2 linked regions of the Homo sapiens genome follow. The protein of the gene in region 1 purifies or fractionates together with the protein of each later gene. This does not show direct contact. Each region holds a gene or a part of one and is shown on either strand. Other genes may lie near its edges.

What was found.
Region 2: the proteins of STPG3 (region 1) and LONP1 purify together in Homo sapiens (affinity purification with mass spectrometry; 3 studies listed by BioGRID and IntAct, with this or other methods). This does not show direct contact.

Annotation. Positions count from the first base shown.
Region 1 is NC_000009.12:137,246,170-137,254,359, reverse strand, and holds STPG3 (protein STPG3), read right to left. Parts: upstream 3,075-8,190; 5' UTR 3,074-3,074; coding exon 2,964-3,073; exon of another isoform or gene 2,623-2,963; coding exon 2,465-2,622; exon of another isoform or gene 2,360-2,464; coding exon 2,225-2,359; exon of another isoform or gene 1,924-2,224; coding exon 1,835-1,923; exon of another isoform or gene 1,699-1,834; coding exon 1,395-1,698; exon of another isoform or gene 1,262-1,394; coding exon of another isoform or gene 1,246-1,261; coding exon 1,115-1,245; coding exon of another isoform or gene 897-1,114; 3' UTR 877-896; downstream 1-876. Other genes in the region: CIMIP2A (ciliary microtubule inner protein 2A), read left to right, coding at 4,124-4,159, 6,576-6,700.
Region 2 is NC_000019.10:5,702,546-5,710,836, forward strand, and holds part of LONP1 (lon protease homolog, mitochondrial isoform 1 precursor), read right to left. Parts: intron 5,859-8,291; coding exon 5,797-5,858; intron 5,282-5,796; coding exon 5,152-5,281; intron 4,599-5,151; coding exon 4,515-4,598; intron 3,448-4,514; coding exon 3,227-3,447; intron 1,674-3,226; coding exon of another isoform or gene 1,571-1,673; exon of another isoform or gene 1,186-1,570; intron 1-1,185. UniProt on the Homo sapiens protein: ATP-dependent serine protease that mediates the selective degradation of misfolded, unassembled or oxidatively damaged polypeptides as well as certain short-lived regulatory proteins in the mitochondrial matrix.

The DNA.
Region 1 (8,190 bases):
ACAGCTCTCTTGCCGCTGGCCAAGTTGGTCAGCCCTAGGGCGAGGGTTCCAGTGCCTTGATCCAACCCCCAGCTGGTTCGGTGGCAGAGGAGGACAAGGGTCACAGCACACACACAATCCTGAGCCTGGGATTCCTCTCTGAGAAAGGGGGTGGTGCTGAGGCCACAGAAGCAGCTGCCCAGAGCCTTTTTGAAGGGGTTGAGCTCTGGGCCTGGTCTGGGTCCTGGGTCTGGGGAGGACCTGGGGAGGTGCGGGTGACGGCACCGCAGGTAAGGCTCCTGCAAGGTGGCAGCCTTGGGGCCCGACCCTGGGTAGGAGGGCAGGCCAGTGATGACAAGGGAGGCCCCAGCCAGGCGAAGTTGCAGGCAGGGGCAGTGCAGGGTCCCAGCAGGTGAAGGCCCCGGGAGTGGAGTCTGCAGGGCCCTGGGCCAGAGTGTTCAGGGCACAGGTGACTAAGCCCAGCCAGGTCTTCAGCTCAAGGCCTAGGGGAAGTGGGGCTGGGCCCTGGTGAGCAGATCCCTGGGCCCTTCCTGAGGTCTGGCCAGGCCGACCCCACCTGGAGGTGGCGGCTCAGGGCATTTGACGCCTCCTTCCCAGTTCCCTGGCTCGGCAAGCAGCTGACCCTCAGGTGGACAGCAGCTAGACCAGGCCCCTGAGTGACACGGCTGGGTGGGGGTGTCCCACAGAGCCCACCTCCCATCTCGCTCCAGGCTAGAGCTCAGGGTCAGTCACAGGCTGCCACCCTAGAGAAGAGAGCACCTTTCAGGGGCAGCTGAATGGAGACCCCTCAACAGGGAAAGCCGGAAATGACCCAGCGGCAGCCATATCTCTAGGACCGCCCCCGGGTGAAGGACAGACAACTGCACACCACAGAGCTCGGGAAAACCAACAGCATCTCAGTGTAGCGGGGAGATGGGCAGATGGGGGATCCAGGCTGGGCCAGCCTTGTCCACAGCCCATAGAAGGGTTGGCCAGCCAGAAGGGTGCATCGGGGTGCCCAGAGGGTCAGAAGGCCAGGCTGGGGCCCCAAGTCCCAGGGGAGGCCTGGGAAAGCCCCGGGGGAGGCCATGGTTCCACTCGGTGGCCGGGCCAAGCAGGTTGTGCCCAGCTGGCTCTAGAGCGTGCAGAAGGGGCCTGTGTCGTGGCGCTTGGGTCTGCGTACACCCTGGATGACCACGCCAGGCGCCGAAGGGAAGCGTGAGTTGCAGTCCTCCACGTGGTAGGCGGCTGGGCCAGGGGTTCGGGCTGCCGAAAGAGAAGGCTGGGAGCCCCACCCAGGTAGCAGCCCCAACTCAAACCTGGCTCCCAGTTCCCACCCCCGGCCCCTGAACCCTTGTCCTCACATTGCCCACCCATGCCCCATCCCTAGCCCTCTTCTCTCCAGGCCTCCTTACAGGTGCTGAGCCAGGAGGTGAACGCAGGGGAGCGGCTCATCGAGAAGGCCGGCGAGCGGGGGCTCTGCAGGCGGCTCCCAGGAAGGATATTGTAGGTGTTGGGGCCAGGGCATCTCTTGCCAGGTGCCTGCAAAGAGGCCTGAAGCAGGGACTGGGGCTGCACCCTGAGGCCCAGCCCCCTAGCCCCAGGCAGCCCTAGGTGGGTGTGGCCTTCAGGTGTCTTGGAAGCGGAGTGGCAGCCTCTGAAGCTGAAGGCGGGGAAGGCGGGCCGGCTGAGCAGCTGGTAGTGGGCTGGCGAGGGCCACTGCGAGGGGGTAGGAGACGGGCTGCAGGGCAGGGTGCTCCCCACGGACCCTCAGCCAGCCCCCCTTTGGCCCCACTGGAACCCCCAGCCCCCTGCCTGCGTGGACTCCCCGCCCCCTTCCTGCCCAGCCCCCAACCTTTTGCTCTTGGTCGAAGTCAGCTTTCTGCGTGAAGGGGCTTTCGCTCTGGAACCACAAAGTCTGCCATGCCCTGCGGCCACCGCCCTCTGTAGTTGGAGGATGGAGAGAGAGAAGGCTGGGAGCCCCACCCAGGTGACAGTCCCCACTCGAACCTGTCTCCCGGTTCCCACCCTCGGCCCCTGAACCCTTGTCTTCACAATGTCCACCCATGCCCCAGCCCTAGCCCTCCTCTCTCCAGGCCTCCTTACAGGTGCTGAGCCTAGAGGTGAACGCAGGGAAGGGTGGAGGGGCCCTCAGGCCGTGGGGGTTTCAGCACAGAGGCAAAGGCCCCCATTCCCAGGGTGAGGGACAGGCCCGGTGGTTGGGCCTCAGGGAGGGGACACACACCTCGGCCCTGGTGCTTGCAGCCGATGCTGTAGTGGGGGTGTGGGGAGGACTCTCGTACGGACGGGCTCGGCACCTGGTACCTGGTGGGGCTGGGGACTTCCAGGTCAGCTGTGATCAGGGGGCGTTGCTCCAGCACTGGCCACAGGAAGCAAGCTCTGGGCCTGGGCTCCTTTCAGCGGGCCCCTCCCACAGCCCCCCAAAGACCAGCTTGGGGGTGGGGTGGCCAGGACCCTCACTCACATAGTTCCCTCAGGGTCTGGGTGTAGGTGGGCAGGGACTCCTGGGGGGTGCCCGTCTGTAACCTGAGGCCAACTGGGATCTCCTTCATCTTTGGGGGCTGTGTCTCATCCCAGGCCATCCCCGGCTCCGGGCCCAACAACAGCACAGATGCCTTGGGCCTGCAAGGGAGACCAGCAGCCACTGTCTCAGCCCCCGGCCGCTCCCAGCCACATGCCCCACAGCCTGTCCCCTCTATTGTCCCTCAGCCCCCGGCTGCTCCCAGCCACGTGCCCCACAGCCTGTCCCCACACTGTCCCTCAGCCCCTGGCCGCTCCCAGCCGCCTGTCCCCTCTACTGTCCCTCAGCCCCTGGCCGCTCCCAGCCGCCTGCCCCACAGCCTGTCCCCACACTGTCCCTCAGTCCCCCAGCCGCCTGCCCAGCAACCTGCCCCCCACACTGTCCCTCAGCCCCCTGGCCACTCCCAGCTGGCCCGCCCCTTCTCCCCCTCTCCGCCAGTTACTGGGTGGGCTCTGGTTGTGTCTGCCTCAGGTGACCATGGGTCCAGTGTTTGCCTCCATTGATGTAAAAATTTGCCAGGAATTTCACTGCCTTCTGGTCAGAATTCATCATCAGAGTCTCCTGGCTCTCTTCCCCAACGGCACCACGGAGCTCTGTGACCTCACTGGTAGGCCCCTCTGTTGCTGGGACTCCTGAGGAAGACACATTGTCTGGCCCTGGAGGGGCTGCCCCGGGCCCCGACCCCTGGTGGGCCCCTCCCCCACTAACTAGATGATCAGCGGGTCCGCCTGGGCCAGGACCCCCAGCCTGCCCCGGTGACTCCTGGCCCAGCCCTCTCCCTCCCCGCAACCTTTCCAGCCTTCTCCCCTCTCCTGCACCCTGGGGTCTCCTGGGAGTCTGGGGTCCACTCTAGCAGGTCTGGGAGGACTGAGGCCTCAGCAGAGGGGGTGGAGGGAACAGGACCCACCGGCATCCACCAAGCCCTAGGAGATGCCCAGCTGTGTCTGGCCAGCCAGGACCCCCTGGGGGTAGGAGGGAGGGGCCCAGGAAGGCTCCCTGGAGGAAGAGGAGGAGCCGCCACCCCATCTGGATTTCCACTTAAGGGAAAAGCAAATCCACATCAGATGGGTCTGACACCAGAGGCAGGCCGGGCCTTGGAGCCCAGCCAGGGCTGGGGTGTGAGGGCCTACCTCTCACCTGGGGGCACAGAGGCTAGAGGGTGTCACAGATGGCCGGGCTGCCAGAGCTGCAAAGGAACAGCCAGCCTGTGTGAGCAAGAGCCCGTGTGGGCACCAGGGCCCTCACTGTGTGGTCTCTGGAGCTGACCACCAGTTGGTCCCAGCCCTGACCTTGGCCCAGAATCCACCAGGGCAGGGCCTGTGAACAGGGCCAACTTGGGGCCCTCCTCCGCCCTCTCTGGATGCCTCCCCTTCAGCACTGGGCCTGCCAGGCAGACAGATGGACACGTGCTTGAGGAAACACGGGTTTTATCTGGGCGAGGGGTTCACGCCTGTGCTCCGGGGCCCCTGCCCAGGTTGTGCCGGGTTCAGAGTTGACTGGCTGCCAGTGGAACAGAGTGTACTTTGCTAATGAAGCCCTTGTCATTGGACAGATAGGCTCCTCCAGGTCCTCCCTGCCCTGTAATAAACGTTGCCACCGTGAATGGTGCTGCTGGACATCCATCCTCTCCTTGAGAAGGTGCGTGGGGGAAATGCTCTCTCAGTGTCCGGCTCTGCGCCCACACCACCACAGCCGTCACAGAAGGAGGCCTCTGCCCAAATGTTGAGGGAGGGGGGTTGTTCCCCACACACCAAGCTGGGTGTCCTCTAATTCATTTCCTTCACCATTTACCTGGAGATGGTGTCAGATCCCACAGGGTGAGAGCTCCATCCCAAGAAGGCCTCCAGACACAGATAGGGGCAGGGCCTCCAGACACACACCAGTCGCAAGCCTGGGCCCCTGGAACTTCTGACCAACTAGCTTCAATTTGGGGTTCCTGTGACACCGTCTTTGGGTTAATTTGCTGGAGCCACTCATAGAACTAGGGAAGTTATGACGTTTACTGGTTTATTGTAAAGGGTATTGATTGCAAAGGATACCAATGAAGAAGCGTAGAGAGAGGCACGGGGAGGGGCTGGCGCTTCCATGTCCTCGCTAGTTGCCGCCCTCTGGGAACCTCCAGGTGTTCCCCTGTCCAGAAGTTCCCTGAGCCTCAGTCCTCTTGGGATTTTACGGAAGCTTCCTGATGTCAGCATTCCTGCCCCCAGGGCTTAGGTGGGACCTCTCCTGGAAGGGTCTTAAGACCCACAGTCAGAAAGGTGAGAATGTTAGCGTCCTGCCTTGGGGCAGGTGAAAGGAGGGCAGGAGGTAAAAGTCCCCCGCCCGCACCCCCCAAGCATCACCCACCCAACATTCTAACAAAAGGCCCTACCAAGGGCTATGGGAATATGGGAATTACCAGCCAGGAACGGTGGAGGAAAACCAGCGTCTACCAGAATGCCAGACAGCTTCTTAGGAGTGGAAGCAATGGTCCCAGTTTGCAGTGTCTTGTATGGACGTGATCCATACCAACTTGGTTTCCAGAAGGCACCACCCAAATTAGAGGCCCTTCTCACTGTGACCCTGCCGGCAGTAAGCCTCAGAAACTGCTCTCAACACACAGTCAGCATGTATGTGATTATGGTCCTGCTTTATGCCCTTATATTTACGGACTGCGGTCTTTTTTTCTTAAAAAGGTCATATTGGCCGGGCACAGTGGCTCACGCCTGTAATCCCAGCACTTTGGGAGGCCGAGGTGGGCGGATCACGAGGTCAGGAGTTCGAGACCATCCTGGCTAACATGGTGAAACCCTGTCTCTACTAAAAATACAAAAAAAAAAACCATATTAGTCTGCATTTTCCATGGAGGTGTTGTTTATATCTTTGTTTTGTGAGAGCTTTTTATGCTGATACCAGATTTGTTCATAGCACTTACTGCAAACTTTTTTCCAGTTTTTTAGTTTGCCTTTTAGTTGTTTTTTTGTTTGTTTGTGAGAAATGGTCTGGTTCTGTTGCCCAGGCTGAAGTGCAGCGGTGCGATCTCAGCTCACTACAGCCTCAACCTCCTAGGCTCTGGCCATCCTCCCACCTCAGCCTCCCAAGTAACTGGGATCACAGGCACATTCACCATGCCTGGCTAATTTTTCTTTCTTTTTTGTAGAGGTGGGGTTTCCCCATGTTGCCCAGCTGGCCTGAACTCCTAGGCTCAAGCAATCTGCACACCTCATCCTGCCTCGGCCTCCGAAAGCACCGCAATTATAGGCATGAGCCACAGTGCCCAGCCTTTCTTCTTTCTTTCTTTTTTTTTTTTTTTTTTTGAGACAGAGTCTCACTCTGTGGCCCAGGCTGGAGTGCAGTGGCACGATCTCAGCTCATTGCAATCTCCACCTCCTGGGTTCACGCCATTCTCCTGCCTCAGCCTCCCGAGTAGCTGGGACTACAGGCGCACGCCACCGCACCTGGCTAATTTTTGTATTTTTAGTAGAGACGGGATTTGACTATGTCAGTCAGGCTGGTCTCGAACTCCTGACATGATCTGCCTGCCTCGGCCTCCCAAAGTGCTGGGATTACAGGTGTGAGCCACCGTGCCTGGCCGCCTTCCTTCATTTTTATGGTTAGGAAGTCCTTCCTGTACAAAAAAAGAACAAAATTCAGGATTTGCTTAAAATGTAAACATAACACCCTGCGCCACATGAAGGGCTGGAGGGAGAGTTCGCACAGCCCTGCAGGCCGGGAAGCCCCTGACTCGAGCCAAGGCTCTGCAGCTGCAAGGCCTCCTGTCAGAGGAGGGGGCCTGGGGACTCCCTTAGCCTCACCCTGAGACTGGGGCTGGTGGCCTCCTGGGGGCAGCAAGAGCCCAGGCCCTTTCTGGAGGGACAGTCCTGTTTTCTGAGCTCTGAAGTTAATGGGACTTCCTCCCGGACCACCTGCCTCACCGCAACTCCTCCCCTGCCTGGCACCTGTCTGGGCCTCAGTGTCTCACCTGTGCAATGTGGGCCCTCACAGGGTTAGCGAGGTGGCCTGGCCCAGGAGGTGCCCACAATGCTGGCCCCTCACAATGGTTGCCCGGTGACAGGACTCCCCTCAGGGAAGGGAGCTGGATGCCGGGAGGGACTGGAGCCAGCAAGGCCAGAGTGAAAGCAAAATGACAACTACTCAGAAACACGATCTCTTCACGCCGGAGCCTCACTATGTCCCTGGGTGAGAGCCGGGAGCTCTGGAGGTGGCTGGGGCCAGGGCTGCAGGAGGGGGAGAATGGCTGGGGCCTGAGGCATGGAGGCCAGCTGTGAGGGGCCCAGAGCTGGACCCCAGGAAACTGAAGGCCACACCACGGGGCACTGCAGTCTGTGGGCTGGGGAGCCCTGGGACAGGGGAAGCTCAGGGATGGGGTTGCCAGGGGCCCAGGCCTCACCCTCCCTGCTGGTGTGCAGCTGCGAACTCGATACCTGGTGGCCAGCACGTCTGTCGAGCAGAAACTGGGTCAGCCAGCAGCCGGCAGAGGCCGGCTAGTAAGTGCCCGACGCCCACTCCAGAGAGGACTCCACACTTCATTTCATTTTATTTATTTATTTTTTGAGACAGAGTTTCGCTCTTATTACCCAGGCTGGAATGCAATGGTGCAATCTTGGCTTACCGCAACCTCTGCCTCCCAGGTTCAAGCGATTCTCCTGTCTCAGCTTCCGGAGTAGCTGGGATTACAGGCATCTGCCACCACACCTGGCTAATTTTGTATTTTTAGTAGGGACGAGGTTTCTTTATGTTGGTCAGGCTGGTCTCGAACTCCTGACCTCAAGTGATCTGCCCACCTCGGCCTCCCAAAGTGCTGGGATGACAGGCTTAAGCCACCACGCCCGGCCAGGACTCCACACTTTAAAGACAAGGCAAGCAAACGCCAGGCTGCCTCACTAGATATCCCCCCAAACAAAAAATAAAAGTAACCCCTCTACGGAACGTGTGTGTGTGTGCACCTACATACACACACGCTACATGCAAAGGGGAAAGGCTGGGAAGAAACCACACCTGCCTCTGAACAGCTACGTCTGGGGAAGGGGCAGGTGAAGCTGAGGCTGGAAGTTGCTCGGCTTTTTTTTTTCTTTTGAGACGGAGTCTCGCTCTGTTGCCCAGGCTGGAGTGCAGTGGGGCGATCTTGGCTCACTGCAAGCTCCGCCTCCTGGGTTCACGCCATTCTCCTGCCTCAGCCTCCCGAGCAGCTGGGACTACAGGGCCCGCCACCAATGCCTGGATAACTTTTTGCATTTTTAATAGAGACAGGGTTTCACCATGTTGGCCAGGATGGTCTTGATCTCCTGACCTCGTGATCCGCCCGCCTCAGCCTCCCAAAGTGCTGGGATGACAGGCGTGAGCCACCGCGCCCGGCCCTTTGGCAGTTTTTAAGACGAAGGTAGTTCTCACTCCTTGAAAGATCACATAGACCCTGAGGCGCTGAACCGCCTGTGACCACCTGCACCATGCCCCTCGAGGTTGAATGAGGGCCCGGAAAAGCCCAGCCCTCCACCTGCCTCCCAGTTCTCTTCCCGTGCAGGAGGCTACTGGCCTCCTGGGGTGGCACAGGTGCAGGCCAAGCCCACGCAACACCCTCCTGGTGGGCCCTGCGTGTGTCCAAGGGTCCGTCCCTCGCCTATGTCCTGGCCCACACGTCTTGTGCCTGTACTTGCTTTGCCAGGGCAGAG
Region 2 (8,291 bases), on another chromosome or scaffold:
AACGGGCCATGATGACAATGGCAGTTTTGTGGAATAGAAAAGGGGGAAAGGATTGAGAAATCGGATGGTTGCCGTGTCTGTGTAGAAAGAAGTAGACATGAGAGACTTTTCATTTTGTTCTGTACTAAGAAAAATTCTTCTGCCTTGGGATCCTGTTGATCGGTGACCTTACCCCCAACCCTGTGCTCTCTGAAACATGTGCTGTGTCCACTCAGGGTTAAATGGATTAAGGGCGGTGCAAGATGTGCTTTGTTAAACAGATGCTTGAAGGCAGCATGCTGGTTAAGAGTCATCACCACTCCCTAATCTCAAGTACCCAGGGACACAAACACTGCGGAAGGCCGCAGGGTCCTCTGCCTAGGAAAACCAGAGACCCTTGTTCACTTGTTTATCTGCTGACCCTCCCTCCACTATTGTCCTATGACCCTGCCAAATCCCCCTCTGCGAGAAACACCCAAGAATGATCAATAAAAAAAAAAAAAAAAATTAGCTGGGCGTGGCAGCGGACACCTGTAGTTCCAGCTACTCGGGAGGCTGAGGCAGGAGAATGGCATGAACCCGAGAGGCGGAGCTTGCAGTGAGCCGAGATCGTGCCACTGCACTCCAGCCTGGGCAACAGAGTGAGACTCCATCTCAAAAAAAAAAAAAAAAAAAAATTTACAAACTGCCCTGTCCAAAGCACCCAGTGCAGGAAGGAGGAGATGGCCGGAGGTCCACTGCTGACTCATCAGGAGAGCCAAGACGGCACTGGCTTCTGCCCAGGGCTGAGTGAGCAGAACCACAGAGGGGACGAGGCTTAGAAAATGGGACAAGGCCTGACCCAGGGCAGGTGGGGAAATGGAGGCCAGGTCCCCTGCCGGGAGAGTGACGCTGAAGGTTGGGAGGGCAACTCCATATTGGTCCCCAAGTTGGGAGCCGTGCAGCAGTGAGCAGCGGCCACTATGGGCCAGGAGCAAGTCAGTGAGGGCTGCAAGAGCACACGGCAGGATTGGGGAAGAGGATGAAGAGGAGGACGGCTTCCGAGGAAGGGCCAGGCGGCCCCACGAGCAGACACCGTCAGGGCGCACTGCCACCCAACGGGCATACGAGACGCACCGGGACAGGCCAGCTGGGCCACACGGATGCTGGAGTTTAGAGACACATGAAGTCACTGTGGAAGTGACACAGGCAGTGACACTTTGCGGAGAGCATTCTGGGTGGGAGAGGTAGCTGGCAGCCTGCTGCAGGCATCTTGGTGACACGCAGGTACTGAGGGCTTGTCCCCCGTGACTTCCCAGGACCTGAGGACAGAACCCGCCTTACAGACCCCCTCAGCTCCTGGGGGAAGGAGCTATCTGCTTCTGCAGGACAAGGCCCGGTCTGAGCAGGTACTTCCACCAGCCCAAGGGCAGCTGAGGCACTCGCTGGGAGACAGAAGAACCCCGAAAACATCTACGTTCTCCCCCCACAGGAGGCGGCGGCACAGGCCTCTCACATGGCAGCAGGGAACTGCAGATGGGGCTGAGTGAAGGTCCCCGAGACAGGAGAGCATTCTGGGTGACCCAGGGGGCCCAGGTTCCTCACCAGGTCCTCACGACAGGCGGTGGGAGGTGAGAGACTGACTGGAAGAGGCTGCGCTGTGGCTGTGAAGGAGGAAGGGGCCCCGAGCCGAGGGATGCGGGCGCCTCCAGATACTGGGAAAGGCAGGAAACGGATTCTCCTCTGGAGCCTCTGGGAGGGACGGGCCCGGCCCACAGCGGGATCTCAGGGCTCGGCATTGTGTAAGGCACTAAGTTGTGGCACCGTCGGAGCAGCCATGGGAGCTCACAGGCCACTCACCGAAATCGGGGCGTGCTGGGAGGGGAAGCCACAGCCTTCGCGCGCAACCAGTGCCTCTCAGGGCCCTGGGGGAGAGACTCCGGCGACCGTGACATTCAAATCTGAGGCGGGGTCCTGGGCCAGCAGCCAGGAAAGAAACTCATGCCTTCCCTCTAAGCGCTGTCCTACGGCCTGCCCAGCCCTGCCCCGGGGACTTCTGCCTAGAAGCTGCCCTGGCGTGACAACTGGTTCCTGGGCTGAAAACAGAGCATGCTGCATGGGAAGTGGCCAGGTGGGTTCTGTCCTGGCTGGACATGGGCATGGCTGAAAGGATCTCAGAGGTACCTGAGGCCCTCAAACCTGGGGCGGCCACCCTGACTCATGGCATGCTCAGGACAGTGGCCCCCGGGCAAGGCCAGTGCTGCGGGAAGGCATGGTCACTTCCTGGCTGACTCTCGAAGGGGCAACAGAAGCCAGGGGTAGCCTTGCAAAGACAGCCATGGGGACTCCTGGTCCTGGCGAGAAGGCCTGGCTTAGGCCAGGCGTGGTGGCTCATGCCTGTAATCCCAGCACTTTGGGAGGGCAAGGTGGGCGGATCCCTTGAGGTCAGGAGTTTGAGACCAACCTGGCCAACATGGCAAAACCCCATCTCTACTAAAAATACTAAAAATTAGCTGGGTGTGGTGGCACATGCCTGTAATCCCAGCTACTCAGGAAGTTGAGGCAGTAGAATCGTTTCAACCTGGGAGGTGGAGGTTGCAGTGAACCAACATTGCACCACTGTACTCCAGCCTGGACAACAGAGCAAGACTCTGTCTTAAAAAAAAAAAAAAGCCAGGCATGGTGGCTCGCGCCTGTAATCCTAGCACTTTGGCAGGTCAAGGCAGCCGGATCATTTGAGGTCAGGAGTTCGAGACCAGCCTGAACAACATGGTGAAACCCCATGTCTCCTAAAAATACAAAAAATTAACCAGGCGTGGTGGTGCATGCCTATAGTCCCAGATACTTGGGGGACTGAAGCAGGAGAATTGCTTGAACCCGCAAAGCGGAAGTTGCAGTGAGCCAAGATTGTGCCACTGCACTCCAGTCTGGACAACTGAGCGAGACTCCATTTCAAAAAAAAAAAAAAAAAAAAGCAGCCCTGGCTTAGAGCCAGGCGTCCCTGGGCTCAAATCCGTGGCACCACCTGCCAATTCACAGGCCCTGGCCACCAGCTCAACAGCCCCGAGCCTCGATTTCCTTGTAGAATGGAGATGGTGATGATGTGTCCTGCCCAGAACAGGGCTGATACTCGCTGGATGCCTCCCAGCCCGCACCTGCCACACCAAGAAGGTGCCACGGGGCTCCCCGCTGGGTCCCCTGGCCTGCCTAAGATGGGGGCTGAGGAGGGGTCACCTGAGGGCTGGGCCGCCCCGGGCCTGGCACTCACTTGAACTCCGAGGAGTGGTTGTCCAGCAGGCCCAGCTTGCTCAGCTCCTCGTCCACAACATCCATGACGTGCTTGGGGACCACGAGCTCCTTCAGGCGCTCCCGGAACTTCTCCTCGATGGCATCCTTGTCGTCCTTCTCCAGGCCCAGCTCCTTCTTGATGATCTTTAGCTGCTCCTGCAGCAGGTACTTACGGTGGGTCTGCTTGATCTTCTCCTCCACCTGTGGGGTGAGGTGCTGCCATCAGGCCCTGGCTCCGGGAAGCTGGGTGGGTGGGTGCGTCCCCAGACGAAGGGGGACCCTCTGCTCCCCCAGGACTCAGAGAGAAAAGAAACGAAACCCAGAGCACGAAGCCTTTGGTTCCTTCCATCTTCTTTTGTTTTTGAGACAGGGTCTACCTGTGTTACCCAGGCTGGAGTGCAAAGGCACCATCATAGCTCACCGTAGCCTCCACCTCCTGGGCTCAAGCGATCCTCCTGCCTTAGCCTCCTGAGTAACTGGGACCACAGGCACCTGCCACACCTGGCTCTAATTTTAAAATTTTTTGTAGAGATGGGGCCAGGCGCGGTGGCTCACGCCTGTAATCCTAGCACTTTGGGAGGCTGAAGCGGGCGGATCACTTGAGGCCAGGAGTTCAAGACCAGCCTGGCCAACATGGTGAAACCCTGTCTCTACTAAAATACAAAAATTAGCCGGTGTGGTATTGCACGCCTGTAATCCCAGCTACTCGGGAGGCTGAGGTGGGAGGATCACTTGAGCCCTGGAGGTGGAGGCTGTAGTGAGCTGAGATTGCGCCATTGCACTCCAGCCTAGGTGGCCGACTGAGACCCTGTCTTAAAGTAAAAAATTCTGAAAAATGCTACGACCGTGAGGTGACCGGCCATCAGGCAGGCTGTGATCTGCCGAAAATCATGACAGCGAGCCTCAATGGCTGGGTCTTAAGAAACAGCATCTTCACTTTTCCCAGGCTGCTTTCCAATTTCCAACACTGTCCCCAAGATTACAAAGGCAAAGGAATTCTTCCCTTAATGTTGGACGGTCCTGAGACTGCTCCACCCTGGGCTCATTACACTGGGACCAGCTTTAAGCTTCCCTGTTCAACGCGGAGAGTTCCACAGCCCAGGACGACAGAGCAGATGATGGCACGAAGCCCTCAAAACCCAGACAGGCCTTCTTGGCTTGCCCTGGCCGATGCCACCGGTCCCTCCGTGTGCTCCAGAGCCTGACTGATGTCACGTGGCCCGAGGGGAAGGCCCCCAAGAGTGGCTGCGCCTCAGCCGCGGGCTCACCTCCCGCCCCAGGCGCTGCTGCAGCTTGCTCAGTTCAAATTCCTTCTTCAGCAGGGAGAGGGCCTTGTACAGCCGCTTAGGAATCTGCCGAGACAGGGAGGACAGAAAGGATGAGCAGAAGTCGGCATCTGTGTGTGTAGGGCCGAGGTTGGGGGAAAATGCGCACCCTGAGAGATGCTGCCGGGAGGACCTGGCCATGCTGTACCCAGCACAGAGGCATGTGTGCCCTCTGCCCCAACAAATCCCGTGCTGGAAACGCATCCTACGGATACTTCACAGGCCCTCCAGCTGCGTGCATGGGGACGCGCTCAGGAGTGCTGCTCACAACAGCAAAAGACTGGCAACGCCCCGGGTACACGGCCCAGAGGATCCCACTGAACCCGCAACGGTGACTCCCAACCGAAGGCTATGAAGCCACCGAAAGGCGGATGGATGTGGACCAAGACACGCAGCGGGAAATCATCTCAAAAACAGAGCCAGGGACACACAGCTGGGTGTGGATGGTGCACGGTGGAGGGACAAGGGCAGCCAGGCATGGGGGAGCTGAGGAGGAACGGGGGCAGCCGGGCGTGGGCGGAGCATAGTGGAGGTGGGGTGCAGCCAGGCGTGGGGGGCTGTGGAGGTGACGAGCACTCACATTGGTCTCTTCCAGGACGTCCTGCAGCTCATGGGACTCGGCCCCGGTGAGCGCGGCGCCCATGTCGCTCAGGTAGATGGGGTTGTCCACCACCCGCTGGCCAGCCTGCATCATCTGCAGCACTGACTCCCTGGGGGACAAAGGGAGCTGCCTCGGTGGCCAGGGCCTCACGCTCTGCTGCAGTGCAGCCCCCAAACGGGGACCCGGTCCTCAGGGTCCCTGTCCCCTGTAGCTATGGGCACGGTCTAGGGGTGCTCGCTGGGAGCCAGCTCTGCTGCTTGTTCTCCAGAGTTCAGGGCCCACCCGTCCTGGGCTGGAAAGGCATGCAGCATCCTCACGTGCAGCCACCACGGGAGCCGTGCAGTGACCTCACCTCAGCAGTCTGCTCCCCACTCCCCCAGCCAATGCCACCAACAGCTTCCGGCCTCAGCAGAAGGGGACAAAGAAACTGGGCCTGCTGAGTCGGCCCCGGGCCTCCCACCTGCCCCATGCCCCAGTGGGCAACGGGCTCCTCCACACAGGCCACTCCTTGGGGCAGGCAAGGTTTCCTCCCAGGAGGACGCTGAGGAAGCCCCCTACCCACCCAGCTGCAGAAAGAGCTGCAGAGATGCCCCCGCCTGGCCAGCTGCCCGCACAGAGGCCCACCTGTAGAGAGGGTTCAAGGCAATGATGTCCCGGATGGTCTTCACGATCTCTGCAGTCAGGGCCTGCCAAGTATGGGGCAGGGTCGCTGGGGCCCAGCAGTGCTCCAGCAGGGGGTGGGCTGGGTGGGAGCATGGCCCTGGGAGCCCCACCCACCAGCTCCATCAACTCCCTCCCCTCCGCCAACTGGCCCTGGCCACGGACGGCCTGGGAGATGGAGGAGTGCAGTCCCTGGTGGACTCACCAGTCCCAGGGACACAGGACCAAGAGAGTCAAAACTAAAACCAAACCCTGTCTCCTTACCCCTCAGAGCCTTGTCCTTAGGATAAGCTATCTCAGGGGAAAAAAAGAGACTGTGTTTTCTTTCCTCCATTTTTTAAGAGACCAAGTCTTGGCCGGGCGTGGTGGCTCACGCCTGTAATCCAAGCACTTTGGGAGGCCGAGGCGGGTGGATCATGAGGTCAGGAGATCGAGACCCTCCTGGCTAACACAGTGAAACCCCGTCTCTACCAAAAAATACAAAAATTAGGCGGGCGTGATGGCGGGCGCCTGTAGTCCCAGCTACTCGGGAGGCTGAGGCAGGAGAATGGCGTGAACCCAGGAGATGGAGCTTGCAGTGAGCCGAGATCGCGCCACTGCACTCCAACCTGGGCGAAAGAGCGAGACTCTGTCTCAAAAAAAAAAAAAAAAAAAAAAGACCAAGTCTTGCTCTGTCACCCAGGCTGGCGTGCAGGGCTGCAATCATGACTCACTGCAGCCTTGAATTCTTGGGCTCAAGCGATCCTCCCCGCTCATTTTCCGGAGTAGCTGGGACCACGGGCATAAGCAACTGCACCTGCCTACAACCAAATTTTAATCACCTGGTCTTGGCCGGGCGCGGTGGCTCACACCTGTAACACCAACACTTTGGGAGGCAGAGTTAGGTGGGTCACTTGAGGCCAGGAGCTCAAGACCAGCCTGGCCAACACGGTGAAACCCCATCTCCACTAAAAATACCAAAAAAAAAAAAAAAATTAGCCAGGTACTTTGGTGGGTGACTGTAATCCCAGCTACTAAGGAGGCCGAGGCAGGAGAATCACTTGAACCCAGGAGGCGGAGGTTGCCATGAGCCAAGATTGCGCCAGTGCACTCCAGTCTGAGTGACAGGGTGAGACTCTGTCTCCAAAGAAACCGTAATCACCTGGTCTCTAGTCTTTGGCTTTGACGCTGAACTGTCTGAGCTGACCCTGGTAGAAGGCACCAGAACAGGCCCACTGGAGGTCCGGGGCACTTGCTTTAAGAATAAGTTCAGCTGGGCACAGTGGCTCACGCCTGTAACCCCAGCACTTTGGGATGCTAAGGCGGGCGGATCACGAGGTCAGGAGATCCAGACCATCCTGGCTAACACGGTGAAACCCCGTCTCTACTAAAAAATACACAAAAAATTAGCCGGGTGTGGTGGCGGGCACCTGTAGTCCCAGCTACTGGGGAGGCTGAGGCAGGAGAATGGTGTGAACCCGGGAGGTGGAGCTTGCGGTGAGCCGAGATCACGCCACTGCACTCCAGCCTGGGCGACAGAGGCTCCATCTCAAAAAAAAAAAAAAAAAAAAAAAAAAAGAACAAGTTCGCTGCCCCTAAGGGGTCTTGCCAGTTCTAATCACATTTGTAAGTTTGGTCGCTGTCTTCCCCCTGTTGCAAGATTCTCACAGGGAATGCCCCAATGCTGAGCTGCCCAGGACAGTGTAGCCGCTGGTGGCTGTCTGAATTTTTTTTTTTTTTTTTTGAGACAGAGTTTTGCTCTTGTTGCCCAGGCTGGAATGCAATAGTGCAATCTCGGCTCACCGCAACCTCTGCCTCCCAGGTTCAAGCAATTCTCCCGCCTCAGTAATCCCGAGTAGCTGGGATTACAGGCATAAGCCACCACACCTGGCTAATTTTTTTTTGTATTTTTAGTAGACACGGGGTTTCTCCATGTTGGTCAGGCTGGTCTCAAACTCCTGACCTCAGGTGATCCGCCCACCTCGGCCTCCCAAAGTGCTGGGATTACAGGCGTGAGCCCACCGTGCCCGGCCTGAATTTTTTTATTTTAATTTTTAGATACAGGGTCTCACTCTGTTGCCCAGGCTGGAGTGCAGTGATGCGATCACAGCTCACTGCAGCCTCAATCTCCTGGGCTCAAGCGATCCTCCCACAGGTTAGACCACTGGTGTGTGCGACCATGCCCAGGGATTTTATTTTTTTTGTGGAGACAGGGGTCTCAATATTGCCCAGGCTGGTTTTGAACTCCAGGGCTCAAGTGATCCTCCTTCCTTGGCCTCCAAAAGTGTTGGGATGACAGGCATGAGACACTGTACCCAGCCAATAAAATGTTCCATTCTGTTCCTTGGCCACAGCAGCTCTACTTCAAGTGCTCAATACTCACAGGTGGCCGGGCACAGTGGCTCACGACTATAATCCCAGCATTTTGGGAGGCTGAGGTGGGCGGATCACCCGAGGTCAGGAGTTTGAGACTAGCCCGG